4 linked regions of the Homo sapiens genome follow. The protein of the gene in region 4 interacts with the protein of the main gene of each other region in a biochemical or structural test. Each region holds a gene or a part of one and is shown on either strand. Other genes may lie near its edges.

Region 1 (3,368 bases), on a different chromosome or scaffold from region 4:
TGGTCCCAGGCCAGGCTGCCTGGGACACGGTAAATACCACTGTGTGCAAAAATCGAAGTACAAAACCACAAGACTAAACAAAACAAACCCAGAGAGCCAAACTTGTAGAGGTGGGCAGTCCAGAAAGCAGGGGGCAGCCCTCCCCCTTTCCTTCTCTCCCTGATCCTCAGAATATATATTGTTGTAATAGGAAGCATTTTTGCATTGTTCTCTTGTGGGTGTCACTACAGACATGTTCTGGCGTGTTCTCCGAGGGATGGAGCATCCTGTTATATATTTGACTTCAAATTGAGATGTTGGCTTCATTTTTTTTTTTTACCCAATTAATCTCCCAATCCCTAGCAACTGTGACTCTGTATTTAGCACAAGAGAAAGCTGAGAATGTGGGTCTTGCCTCCTTCCAGAAATATGTCTGGCTCATCAGGACATTTTTTTAAAACTTCAAAATATTTTTAAGATATTTTAAACTTTTATAAAAAAAAAATCAACCAACAAGAGACTTTTCTGAGGAGGAACATTTGTATTTGAACAAGATCCTTGGTGTGTAGTTCAGTCTTGCAGTATACAAGCTTTTGTGTATAAATGTTTTATGATATGATTCCCTGTATTTTGCAGGGGTTTTTTTCTCTTTTGCTTTTTAGATAAATATGTATATCAATATTTTAAATTCATCTTTGCTTTTTTTAGAGGAGTTTGTAATCACCTTATAACATGAAAATAAACATTTCCTTTTTAACATCCAACATGTGTGGGTTGTGTTCTGGTGAGGTATTTCCCCCTCAACGTTTGCCAAACGCTTTACATTTTATAAAGGGCTTCCCGTCCAATCCCAGGACGCTCCTCAAAGGTAGGTATTTTCCCAGGTTAGAGGTTCCCACATGGAGGCTCACAGAGGAAGCAGCTTGCTCACTCAGGGGTACACAGCAAGTCCATGAAAGAACCTGGATTCGCACCCGGGCCCATGAGCTCTTGGCTCTACTGGCTCTACTGATTCTACCTGCTACATGCCCAGCCCTGTACAGCTGGGAGATCTGGCAGCAGTCACCTGAGCCTCAGTTTCCCCATCTGGAATAAACCATTGTCCCCATCAAGGCCACCAGGATGATTGGAGGTGATGCTCTTGGCCTTAGGTGCTCACCTGCTGCGGCTTTCAGTCCCTCCTCTTTAGCCTTGGGCTGACCTGCCAGAAGGGCAGAAAGCGGGTGGCGGAGTGGGGGAAAGGGTAGAGGGGGAGCAAACCTGATTGCCCTTCTCCCACTCCCCCACCGTCAGGTGCAGGCGCTCATTAATACCCAGTTAGGGGCTCTCTGGGGTCACAACAGGTCCATGTTTGGGGCAGCCTTCCTGCCAACAGCGCCCCCCACCCTTTGGGATGGACAAACTCGGGAGTCAGTTGAGCCCTTTGCCCAACTAACCAGACAAAATTCTCAGTAACTCATTTATAGACAATGTTAGAATAGAAGACCACCCTACCCCCATTTTCTGGCTCTTTCTGACAGCCTATGCCTACCTGCCTGCCTCTCTCTATGTGTACTGGGCCATGTGGCTTGTGTTCAAGCCCTGGTTCCATCCCTTACTACCTGTGTGGACTTGGGCAAATTACGTAACCTCTCTGTGCCTGTTTCCTCATCTGTAATGATGGGACAGGAATAGAGCCCACCTCCAAAGGCTATTGGGAGGATCCAGCAAGCTCTTGCAAAGCGCTTAGAGCAAGGCCTGCTGCCTCCCTTGGCCTTCCCCCTGCCTACACCACTCCCAAGACAGAGTACTCGCTTCCTGGAAAGAAGCTCTTCCTCTGCTCACAGAACTGTGGCCTCCCCAGTGGGGCCTGGCCCTGGCCTCTGGGTCCCAGACCCTGTAGCTCACCTGCCCTAGACACTCTCTGGACACTCCAGGGCAGCAGCCAGACCTGAGGCTGCCCTCCTGCCACTACCTTCCCAACCTGGGCTAAAGAGACTCCATATGCAGGCACCACTGCCTGCCTCTGGCTTTCTGCTGCGCAGAGAATCAAATTTGCTCCCCCTACCCAAGCCTTCACGACTGATTCCTGCTACCTCCAACCTAGTCTCCAGCCCCATTCCCCTCCCAGGCCTTCTTTCTCTTCCTTGAGACCGTCAAACTCGTTCCTATCTCAGGGCCTTTGCACTAGCTGTGCCCGCTGCCTGAGACACTCTTCCTCCAGGTCTCCATGGAGGCTGGCTCCTGTCTTCAGGTCTCATTGCAAATGTCGCCTCTTGAGAGAAACCCCTCCTAATATTGTGAGCTAAAGCCCCTCACCCTGGTCCCTCTATCCCGTTACTCCCTTGTTTTCTTTGTTGCACTTGATGCCTTTTGAAATAATTATTTATTTGCTTACTTGTTGATTGTCTGCCTGCCACCAGAATGTGCAGACATGACCTAAATCTGTCTGATTCATGTTGCCCAGGGGCTGGATGATGGAAGCAAATGGCAAACTTTTTGAATTAATGAATCATCAAAAGCAGGTGAGATGTCACCAGACCCATACAGAAGCTGACTCTTGCCAATCCATGATTTTTTTAAAAAGCAAACTTCTACTCTAGGTGGATTTAAATAATTTTATTTTAAAAAATCATCCCCATGGCACCTACCCCCAAGCCACTGCAACCCCTGGTGGGACAAAGACTTAGACGAGGGCCCCAAACAGACCATAAGCGGCCTTTGCAATACAGCCCCTTGTGCTTCCCGAGAGCCCTAAGAAAACCCGATGTAGAAAAATACTTTACAAGGAATGTGTTCTAATCTCAGCCAGAGAAAAATACAGCTTTGGGGGAGAGGGCAGGTGGAAGGGGACATGTCACAGGGGCTGTTCCCAAAATGCATAGGCAGGCAGGGCGCTCACTGGGGAAAGGTGTCAGGAAATTTCAAGTCGGGGATGAACCATCCCCATGAGAAGCCAGAAGAAATATTGCATATGAGGAGGCCGGCATGGCTGGGAGGCCCACCGCGGGCCTGATTGCATACTTTTGGGAGAATGGCAGAGGCCTCAGCCCGAGGAGGGAGGGGGGTATTAGTTAGAGTCGGGTGCATCTTCCCTCGCCTGGAGTCCTGGAGTCAATGCAGTTTTCCCAAGCCGAGAGGCCCTGAGAGTGTGTCCTGTCCAGCCCTGTTGCTTAGCAGAGGTCCAGAGAGGCTGAGCCACCTGTCCAAGGTCACACAGCTATGGCTGCTTGCATCCAGAAGCCACACCTCTGCTGTGCTGTCCCTCACCCTCAAAAGTGAGGGCTCTTGGCTTTCACTTGGTGCCCTGTGACAGGTAGACAGTGCCCTTTCACTCTGGGCTGAGTACACGGGAATCCAAGATAGCAGAGGCGCTGAGCACCCCAGGCACAAGCATGCAGGGCCCTCAG
Region 2 (3,500 bases), on a different chromosome or scaffold from region 4:
TTTATAATCTTTAGTATTTATTAAATACCAGGGGATCAATGATTGGTACTTTACAGTTCTGTGGCCTTTTAAAATTCTACCTTTTACTTTTCTTCCAGACATTACGTTTTTAAGTTTGTTGTAAATATGGTTTACATGCTCTTGGCATGTCATACAAAGTGCTAAATCCATCATTGCTGTACCTGTGGTTTCCTTAATCTTGGGGAGCCGATGGCATCCATCTCTCAATGTGCCAAACAGGGGTTCGGTGTTAATGGCTGTGTGCAGAGCAGGCACTGTCATCCGTGGACACATCCCTTCTGTCTGTGGGTGCAGTTCCTTAAAGGTGGCTCCGTGGTTGGGAAGCCCAGGGGCTCTCTCCTCTGAAGGAATGTAATTCACGCCTTTCCCAGAAGCGTCAGGAATCAAGTGCTTCCCCAGGGAGGGGCAGAGCGGCGACTCCACGGGTGTGGCACAGGCACTGCCACTGCTGCCTGTGCCACAGCCTGCATCCACTGAAGAGCCTTGGGAGCTCTGCAGAGAAAAATGGCCCTCGCTTTGCAGTGATGACATCCGCTTGGCCAAGTGGTAGTCACAAAGGCGGGCCACACTCTCATCAGCCTCAGGAAGCTTGGAAGGATGGTCGCAGGTGGACGAGTCAGCGTCCTCTGGGTTATCTAAGTCTTTGGCTGAAGATGCACAGGTCACGTCAGTTAAGAAGCGGTCCCCTTGACCAAGTCCTGAGCCATCACTGGTTTCTCCATCAGGAGCTCCTTCTTCCTTCCCTTCGGCCTCCCTTGCCCCAAGACCAGAAGCTCTTGGAAAGGTTTTCCCTGTTGCTGCTTCTAATCCACTTTTTTCAGCCATCCCACCTTCAGTGGCCACATACCATCTTTGACTGTCCTTGCGAAAGGCAGTTCTCTCCAGATTAAAAGTGCTCAGGTGTTGACTGTCTCGTGAAGACACAGTACCAAATTTACCACTGGCCTCCTCCTCCATCTCTGCCGTTTTGGTCCCCTGCTGTTTTTTTCCTGTTGTGTTCCCATTAGGGGGTGCCTTCCCCTCACCATCGGCCAGCTTGCTTTTCCTTTTGCTAGTGCAGGAGTATGCCACCGACCCCATGTGCAGTTTGCTAAAATAGTCAGTGACCGACTTAGTCTCCATAGTTTCAGGCTCCATCTCCATGTGGTCTGAGTGAAGTAACTGCTTGGAAGGCACAACTTTGGGCGGGAGGTCGGTTGCTGGCCTAGCAGCCAGGGCGTGCGAGGACTTTGGAGGCAAGCCCCCAGCGGGGGTCTTGGAGGCCGGGAACTCGGTCTGCTCTTCTGCAAGGGGGTGGTAGCCTTCGTGAGTGGCCAAGAACATGCGGGAGAGGTTTTCTGACTGTTTTTGTGCTGTGGCCAGTTCAGAACTCTCAGTCATTTCAGAAGAGTTAGTTTCATTGCCCGAGTCTGACGAAGACTCAGGACTATAAGCCCGCAAGATGGCTACACCTGCATGCCGTAAAAAACAAGAACTGATTAATGGATGCATCAGAGGCACTTGGAGACATGTAAGAAAATGGGACTCGTTATTACTAAAACAAAATACCAAGTTTTTCCCTTTTCAGTAAGGACTCTGAGTTTATTGCAGTTTTTCCAGAAATGGGGGTGGGGGGAGATGTGCCTTATGTTTTTAAAAAAAAATAACAAAGGAAATCACATACACACAAAAAAACCCATGATGGCAGTTTCAGCACATTTATGAAATGGGACATGTGTGAAATGGAGAACACCACGTAACAGGACTCCAGGGGCAAATGGCTTGGAAGGATGGAATGATATGGTTATCAGTGAATGAATGTAACAATTGTGAAAGAACCTGAATTGTCACTGGTCTGCTGTTCTTCTGACACGGATAGAGCCTCTAGAGCTCCCAGCGTGGAGACGACGGCATTATCCAGTCCCTTCTCACACTTGCCTTCGGCGCTGGTGGGCACAGCGTCAATGAGGGACACGGGGATCTCATCATTTTGCAGGCTGCTGCCTTTCTCCTTGTCCTCGGGGAAGGAAGCTGCCTGGCTCTGAGAGTCCTCTTCATCTGAACTGTCTCTAAAGCCAGGTGGGGGTGCGGCAATGGCCATGTTCAAGGAACGCAACAGGAAGTCATCCTCATTGTCATCACCTTCTGGAGGGGGCAGGGATGTGAGGTCAATGATGTCATCGCTTGACCCAGACAGGTTGAGGATGGCCGGCTGGTTCATCTCCCCCACCACGAGGTCCTCCTCGCAGCTCACCTCGTCCTCGTCCTCCGCGTCATCAGTGTTTTCTGCATAACAGATGTCATGCAAGAGGGGTTCCTCGATCCCCTCCGCGGCCTGGAAGCTCTTCACATCGCCTATGTTTGCATAAACAGAATTTTCCACAAACTGGATGCCCTCTGCCTCTGGAGTGAGATCCAGGCCCTTCATGTCATTGGCACTGCCAATGTAGAGATTTCTCTGCTTCTCCAGCATTTCAGGACCCTCATCTAGTAGCGTTTCATAGCCAAGGGTTGGGGGACTAATACCATCATCCAAGGCGAAGTCTCCAAAAATAAAGGACACTTTAGCTCCTCTCGGAGATTCCTGTGCTTTCTTCAGAGTTTCTGGTCCTGAGAGGGTCAATAGGGACCGCTGAGCTAGACTTCTGTAGTCTGCCTCACAGGGGGCCTCCCCGGGCTGGCTCAGCTGCTGGTTAAGTCCATCTGAACTATAGGCATTGTCTATGTACAAGTGCCGGTGCTCTTTTGGACACATGGTGCTGTCTGTGATCTCCACCGTCTTCTGCTTTGAATCTATGTATGTTATCTGGGCTTCTTGTTCCCCTTCGCCAATAAAGGTGGTCATTTGGGGTATACAGTTCCAATCTGGGCCAAGGAGGTTATGCTTCCCCTTGTTTTCAGGTCCTAAAGAGAAAGAATCACGCAAAGACACATTACTGTACTGTCTGGTTTTGGGTGGGGCGGGGGTGGGAGGCTCGTCTCTGTTTTTTAACTTAATGGCTTGTAGCATCACTTATGTAAATACAGTTTTTCAACTACCCAAATATAGTACTTATTGATTTAGGCTTCAGGTGTAAGAATTCCTTGGGTTAGGAGAACCGACCTTAACAAAATTGATACTGCATAAACTGTAATTGCTATTTGATAAAATGTAATACCATCTGGGGGTAGGGAAGTATAGCTTAATTCCATCTGACCCTTGGTTCTATTATTAAAAGGCTTCATTCATATCTACAAATGTAAATATACAACATGTCTTTTACCCTTAAAGGTGAGATTTCAATAGGCCGTTATTCCAGAACATTAATTGTTCTTTTCCTTGTAAGGTGAGATTTAATATTCCCTACTTCATGGAGGAAGATATTGAGTGTTTTCCTCATTGAATTCAGAGACGGTCAAGGATCGTCAGAGTTTTACCATAGTTTTTAGGAAATTAAGATAAATGTTGTAATGATAGTACAAAACTTCTATCTTCAGTCTTTTGATATCCTAGTGGATGT
Region 3 (3,500 bases), about 140 Mb from region 4:
TCAACTCTCAGCAACCCTCTATCCTTGCCGCCACCCCTGAGATGTCCATGGGTGCAGCCGTTGTAGCCCTGCCCACCTGGTGGAGAGGCTGGAGGTAGAGGACGAGGCTGACTGGTGCAGGCGAGTAGCCTCCGCAGCAGCATCCATGTCAACATCACTGCGAGAGCGGGGCACGTTCTCTGCCTTTCGAGACCGTTTCATCTCTTCCCGGCCCTTGAGGCTTTCAGAGCGGCCCAGGCGAATCTCTGAGCGTGAACTGGGGGGAAGGGACAAAAGACTTTGGGACTTGGGAAGTCAGTGGGCCATGCTTACATCCTGGCTAACTCTTACCTGTGGCTCCATCTCAAAGATGCCTCCGTGCCACAGGTTCTCCTCCTGAACATGGCCAAAGCAGCTGGATGGCAGTGGAAGCTTCTCAATGACAGACTATTTTTGCTGCTCTACAAACTCCTCCTCTCTCCCCAGCCTAGCCTGATGGATGGACAGTCATCTTCCTCTGGAGCTATTAGGAAGGGATCCTAACAGGAAGATGAAATCTGGGGCTAACAGACTCTGAGTTGTAGTGTGTCCAGAGGCCTGAGACACCATGCTTCTGTCAAGAAGGTGGTAGACATCATCGTCCCTCAACAGGGAACACAAGGTCCCAGCTCCCTGCCCCTAGTGGCCAGTTCACGTTGCCTCTGCTTTGGAACGGGTCAGCTCCCACCTTTAACTCTGCCTGAGGCGAACCTCTTTTAAGAGGTCTTAAGAGGAAAGTGGAGTCACTATATTCACAGCTCATTTTAGGATTTTCCACACTGCCTGTCAGAAAGTTCTATCTGCTGCTGGATTCTTAGCCTTCCAGTTGTGATGTGGATGAGTTCCATTCTTATCTTAACAATACTGTTCCTAAGATTCCATTTCCTCTCAAGAGCAGACAGGCTTGTGCTTAAAGGGGCCTTTTTACTGATAGGCAGGACCCGCTCCTTGGCCTGCCGTGCTTGGCTACTGAGTGTCTCTGGGGTTTGATGAGATGCTGATGACTGGGTGTTGCGGTGTCGAGTCCTGCAGTGCATCAGCCCAAGACAGCTGGCACCTCTGACCCCTAGCTGCCCCAGGATGGTCACCCCACCTCCATGCTGTGGCCCTGTTGGGCTGGTTTTCTGATATTATTAGTAATCTACATCCTGCTCTGCTTCTAGGACCACAGGAGGCCTGGAAATGTCTGCAGAGCTCTTAATAGCACAGCAGGTTGCTGCAATGAGGAGCTAAATGTCTCGGTCTCCATTCATTGTGCCCAAACTGCCAGATGATCCAAAATGGAGCTCATCTCCTAGGGTCCTGAGGGTTTTGTCTGCAGGGTTAGAAAACATACTGCCCACTGATCCCTTATTGAATTCACCCTCCAGAATTGTGTTAGAACAATCCCAACCCAGACTAACTCGGAACACTTTTCAGTGTCCTAATGGGTCACTGTACCACCACAACAAACACCCAGTGGAGTTACTGGGGCTGCAGAGCTAAGCACCTTCCTTCAAGCACCCAGAAGTAAGTAATGCTCCTCACCAAGAAGTGAGGCATATCATCTGTCTTTGCCCCCAAATTCCTAGGGTATTGCCTTCTAGAACTGGGGCATCTTATACCTGTTGAGTATCTACAACAATCTCTGACCCACCATATTGCTAATACTATTTCTTCTGAGATTGCCAATGAGTTGATAATCATCAAACCCAAAGGCTTCTGCTTAGAGTAGCTTTAGGATCCTAGCAAGTGTCTTAGGGCAAATTTACCTAGCAATGCCAAGAATGCAACTTTGTAAATGGTCTCAAATATTTTCTCAAAATGTTGATGTCTTATAATCTTAAAATATTTGATATATCTACGACATCATGTGCTTCCACAGGAATCACATAATTTGCGTATTTAACTTACCCATTAATGTTAGAACTCAACCTTCCCCCAGTACAAATCTAACCTTTGTCTCCTGTAAATCTGTCAATTCTCATGGCAGCAAAATCTTTTAACACGTGTTAAGCTGAAAAAAGGCTTCATATAAACAGAAAGGAGTAACCTGCATTCAAGCAGGAAAGGTTGGCTTATGGTTTGATAATTAGTTATTTCAAAGGCAAAATAGGCCAGGTGCAGTGGCTCATGCCTATAATCCTAGCACTTTGGGAGGCTGAGGCAGGAAGATTGCTGTGGTTGGGAGTTCGAGACCAAGCTGGGCAACATAGTGAGACTGTCTCAAAAAAATAAAAATAAAAATCAATTAGCCAGGTGCAGTGGTGCATGCCTGTATCCCTAGTTACTCAGGAGGCTGAGGTGGGAGGATCCCTTGAACCCAGGAGTTTGAGGCTGCAGTGAGCTATGATTGCACCACTGCAATCCAGCCTGGGTGACAGAGAAAGATCCTGTCTCTTTAAAAAAGAAAAAAAAATCCCCAAAACAAACAAACAAACAAACGAAGGCAAAATGGCTTGAATATCCACGCTGCTGCATACTGACTTGCTTTCATGCCTGCCTATACTCCAGCTCAGTGGCTCTGAGGCTTGACTGTACACAAGCATTATTTCCCCCCACACAAGACCATATTACTCTACCTGTTTAAGTCACCTTTAAGGGTGGTGTTGGTTTTTAAGTGTTGGCTATAGAATTTTAGACATGACTTGACTGCTGTCATGCCACAATCAAGAGCAAGTAAGTCCAAGAACAAGTTTTCATACCAGATGGGGACTCTAGTTAGAACCTGACCAAAGAAGAATATGAGAGATGCCAGTCTCAATTCCCCTTTTTCTTCTTGAAAAGGGAAAAACAGTCCATTTGTAATCAATCCACTTTGCCTCTCTTTGCTGAGGTGGACATCTGATGCCTATAGTTACATCATTTGTCTTTAAAGTACCCAGCAGAACCTCATCTCTGGCTCTCTTCTTCACATACAGACAGGAAACCACTTTCTTTTGCCTGCCTGGGTCTTTTTTCCCCAGGACTCCCTCTTGCCCCCACTATAGTCTTCCTTATCCTTGTCACTTAGGGTTTCCTGATTAGCTGCTTTTTATCACCTAGCTCGATCTTGGATGAAGGCTACTGAGTAGTCAGGTGATAAATCCAAAGGGAATTTGAAAAGTGTGTAGTTCTTGGGCTGGAAGTCGGGGATCTGCTTGCTCTTCCACTGGCCTGTTCACTGGCACACAATGTGTCTCCTGAAGATACTGGGGGTGGGGAGGAAGTTCTGTAAAGGGAGCCTTAGAAGCTAGTGGAGAGGGGTCAAGTAGCTGGAATTAAACCCTAGCATCAGCCCTGCCCATGACCCACTCTTCGAGCAGCTGGCGAGTCCCATCCAGCCAGTGCTACCTGTCACTCTCCAGCAGGTCCTCAGGAAAGCTTCCGGTCGAGAGTCGTTGTGTCCCAGGTTCTGGGGCATCATACTGCTGGTTGTTCTCAAAGTGCTGAATGATGTTCCTCACATTGCCTGGTTTGACTAGAAGCAAAAAGAAAATGAAGGACACTAGGCTTGCTGTTCA
Region 4 (3,500 bases):
AGCCGGGCGTGATGGTGCACACCTGTAATCCCAGCTACTTGGGAGGCTGAGGCACGAGAATTGCTTGAACCCAGGAGGCAGAGGTTGCAGTGAGCCGAGATCGCACCACTGCACTCCAGCCTGAGCAACAGAGCAAGGCTTCATCTCAAAAAAAAAAGAAAGAAAAAAACATCCTGCTGTGGGTCTCCATCAGGATGGAGCCCAAGCACCCGAGGAGGGCACATAGGGTCTTCCCTCTATCTCCCCTGCACCCCACTCTGCGGTTCACTCCAGCTTTCACTCACGGCTGGCACGTCTCCAAATGCCCGGGCCGGGTCCCACCTCCACACCTTTGCAGGTGCTGTGCCCTTTCTCTAGGATGCCACCCCTGCAGCAAACCTTTTTCAGCTGTCTCCACTTCTGTGAAGGCCCCCCAGCCTTCCCTCCACACCACACTGTGAAAACAGCCAGGACATGTGCCAAGTGTTTACTGCGTGCCCAGCGCGGGGCTGCCACGCTGCAGGCAATGCCCATTTTGACCCTCACCACAAGCTTCTCACACTGGGACTACTGATATCGCCCATTCTGAAGATGGGCAGTGAAGGCACAGAGAGGTTGCAAGTTGGCCCGAGGTGGCAGAGCTAGTGGAGGAGGCAGGCTGGGAACTGCTAGAGAACAGGACCCTCTTGGCCCTGCCTGTCCTCCGCCCTGGCCTGTGGGCCCTTGGGGCTGAGGCAGCAGCTTGCTCATCCTTGTGTCCTGGGCCCAGCACTCAGGGGTCGCTCAGTGTTTGAACTGTGGCCTCTGGGACTGGGTCTCCGCCTGTTGAACCCCTGGATGACCACGACATGGAGGTCGGGCTGACATCATCATTAACGGAAGTGAGAACCGAGGCTCAGAAAAGTTAAGTAACCTAACAAAGCCACACGGCAAGTGAGGAAAGCCCAGCTCCCCCGGCGGTCCCAGAGAGTGCCTGGGGATGGCTTGTCCTGTGGGTGAGTGGGTCTCACATTCAGGAGGGCACTGGAGGCCAGGGGGCTGGGGGCTTGGCTGGGATGGGAGAAAAGCCTGCGACACTCTGCCCTGGGACTCCTGAAACCTGAAGGCCAGCAGGCCTGACAAGGGATGCTGGTGGCAGCCTGTGTCTGGAGCAGAGCCCTGCCCGCCTAGTCCCCACTGCGCCTGGAGAGAGGATCAGGGCCGCCCTGCCAAGTTAGAAGGGAGAGCTGGGAGGAAGCTATGGCACCCCCGCCTCCATCCTGGAAGGCAGCCCCTTCCCACCTCACCGTGGGGTCCCGCCAGCCCCATGCTCTGCTGCTTACCGGGCCAGCACCTGCTGCTGGTCCACAACGGGCAGCGGGTCATCAGTCAGCACTGCCACCTCCATGCCCACGCTCTCCCTCTTCACACCAGCTGTGGCCGGCAGGGGCTCAGGCTGAGCCACCAGGGCCACCGGGGCCTGAGCCTCCAACCACACGCCAGGCTCTGCTGTCCGCACCACCTCTAAGGCCACTTCCGAGGCCAGATCTACCTCCTGAGTGTGAAGAGAAACCCAGGTGGAGGTGGGAAGGCCGCCCCAACCCCCGCCGACAGCTCCCAGGTGGCTCAATCCCAGACGGGGCCATTCCGCCTGCTGCAGCCCCGACAGATCACCTCCAGCTCAGGGACACCAGTGACACAAAAACACGCCCTGTTGAGTTCTTACTGCCGCTATTCCCACTGACACCCCCACGCTAGGAGGAAGGCTCCCAGCTTCCTCTCTCACCTCCCACAATCCAGTCTCCACAGGCAGCCAGGGCCATCTTAAAATAGAAACCGATCACATCCCGTTCCCGATGAGCCCCATGTGACTTCCCGTCACGTTCGCAGGAAAGTCCACTTTCCTCCCTGCCGGCTCCCTGCCTCCACGGCCTCCCCCGCCACCGTGGCCTCCTTTTCCATTGCTAAGAAAGTCAAGGTCTTTCCAGCCATAGGACCTTGGCACTTGCTATCCCCTCTGCTTGCTGCTTCCCCCCGTCCCTCCTTCACGCCTGGGTCCCACCCCAGAGTCACTTCCTAGCCAGGGCTGCCCCGGCTGCTCCATCTACGCCCTGCTGAGAGCCTGCTGCAGGCCCGGTGCCCAGCCCACACTTGAGTCCAAACTGTCTTCTTCCTCTATAAATGTAGGGAGATTTAAAGCTTCCTCTCCTTTTGCTCCCCTGGGGTGTTCAAATTGGGTTCCCCGATGGTGTCATAGGGGCCACCAGCCCTGACCTGCAGCCCTCGTCCTTTGCACACACTGGGCCTCAATTCCTTTACACAAAGGGCGACAAGGCTAAGGAAGGTTTGAAAGCCACCATCTAGAACAACAGGCCACTTTCACTCCATAAGAAGAAGATGATGGTTCCTCCCACTGCACACTGCCTGGCCACGGGCCACAAGCCCGGGGAAGGCTGGAGTTGTTGTTCTCAGCTCATGGATGAGGAAACTGAAGCTCAGGGAGGGAGAAGACAAGCTGGAGTTTCCCAGGAAGTTGAAGAGAACCCCGTCCCCCACATGGAGGCCCGGGGAGGTACTCACAGGCCTGGGCGGGAAGTCATCAGCCGCCTCGGCTTCGGGCCTGGCATCACTGGGCTCCAGCAGGTCTGTCGGCGCAGGGACCTGGGAGGAAAGAGGGGATGGAGGAGAAAGAAGGCTGATTTGGGCCAGAACCATCCTTTACTCCCTCACCCCTGGCCTCACTTCAACTCCCCAAGGCCTCCCACCACCCCCCAACCTCCCCTGCCTGTCACTCCCGAGAGAAGGAGCACAAAGGAGGGAAGAGATGAGGGAGAGAACAGGGAAGAGAGGAAACGGAAGACAGGCGTGTGGTGGGCACCTGCTGTGTGCCAGGAGCGTTGCCTGCATCCACTCCTCTGAAGCAACCTCATTTTACAGATGAGGAAACCCAGCCCAGAAAGGTCACACAACCAAGGAAGTGGTAGACCTGGGATCTCTCTCTCTAAATACACACACACAGACACACACACACAAAATACACACACACACACACAGAGGAAAGGAAAGCAGAGAACAAAGAGAGGAGAAAATAGGACTTTTTTTTTCTTTGAGATGGAGTCTCGCTCTGTCGCCCAGGCTGGAGCACAGTGGTGCGATCTTGGCTCACTGCAACCTCCGTCTCCCGGGTTCAAGTGATCCTCCTGCCTCAGCCTCCTGAGTAGCTGGGATTACAGGTGCACGCCACCACACCTGGCTAATTTTTATATTTTAGGTAGAAATGGGGTTTCACTTCACCATGTTGGCCAGGCCGGTCTTGAACTCCTGGCCTCAGGTGATCCACCCACCTCGGTCTCCCAAAGTTCTGGGATTACAGGCGTGAGCCAATGTGCCTGGCCAAGAGGAACATTGTTTTAAAAACAAGAGGGTTGTTGAAAAGGGAGAAGATGTTGGTCAGGGGGCCAGATGGAGGAAGAGCAGTATCCCAGAAGCCTCGTGGTCACTGAAAGGTGGCTGGATTCCCACAGACCCCCCACCCAGCTCAC

Evidence for each region. Proteins that work in one complex are often made in the same cells at the same time.
Region 1: the proteins of KIF17 (region 4) and GRIP2 interact in a test that uses a peptide from one of them, tested with the Homo sapiens proteins (one large-scale study listed by IntAct).
Region 2: the proteins of KIF17 (region 4) and FRMPD4 interact in a test that uses a peptide from one of them, tested with the Homo sapiens proteins (one large-scale study listed by IntAct).
Region 3: the proteins of KIF17 (region 4) and ARHGEF11 interact in a test that uses a peptide from one of them, tested with the Homo sapiens proteins (one large-scale study listed by IntAct).

Annotation. Positions count from the first base shown.
Region 1 is NC_000003.12:14,488,607-14,491,974, forward strand, and holds the end of GRIP2 (glutamate receptor-interacting protein 2), read right to left. Parts: 3' UTR 501-3,368; downstream 1-500.
Region 2 is NC_000023.11:12,715,473-12,718,972, reverse strand, and holds part of FRMPD4 (FERM and PDZ domain-containing protein 4), read right to left. Parts: intron 2,905-3,500; coding exon 1,840-2,904; intron 1,473-1,839; coding exon 183-1,472; intron 1-182. UniProt on the Homo sapiens protein: Positive regulator of dendritic spine morphogenesis and density. Required for the maintenance of excitatory synaptic transmission. Binds phosphatidylinositol 4,5-bisphosphate.
Region 3 is NC_000001.11:156,948,243-156,951,742, forward strand, and holds part of ARHGEF11 (rho guanine nucleotide exchange factor 11), read right to left. Parts: intron 3,458-3,500; coding exon 3,331-3,457; intron 1,776-3,330; exon of another isoform or gene 384-1,775; coding exon of another isoform or gene 331-383; intron 278-330; coding exon of another isoform or gene 257-277; coding exon 77-256; intron 1-76. UniProt on the Homo sapiens protein: May play a role in the regulation of RhoA GTPase by guanine nucleotide-binding alpha-12 (GNA12) and alpha-13 (GNA13). Acts as guanine nucleotide exchange factor (GEF) for RhoA GTPase and may act as GTPase-activating protein (GAP) for GNA12 and GNA13.
Region 4 is NC_000001.11:20,683,508-20,687,007, forward strand, and holds part of KIF17 (kinesin-like protein KIF17), read right to left. Parts: intron 2,620-3,500; coding exon 2,539-2,619; intron 1,514-2,538; coding exon 1,302-1,513; intron 1-1,301. UniProt on the Homo sapiens protein: Dendrite-specific motor protein which, in association with the Apba1-containing complex (LIN-10-LIN-2-LIN-7 complex), transports vesicles containing N-methyl-D-aspartate (NMDA) receptor subunit NR2B along microtubules.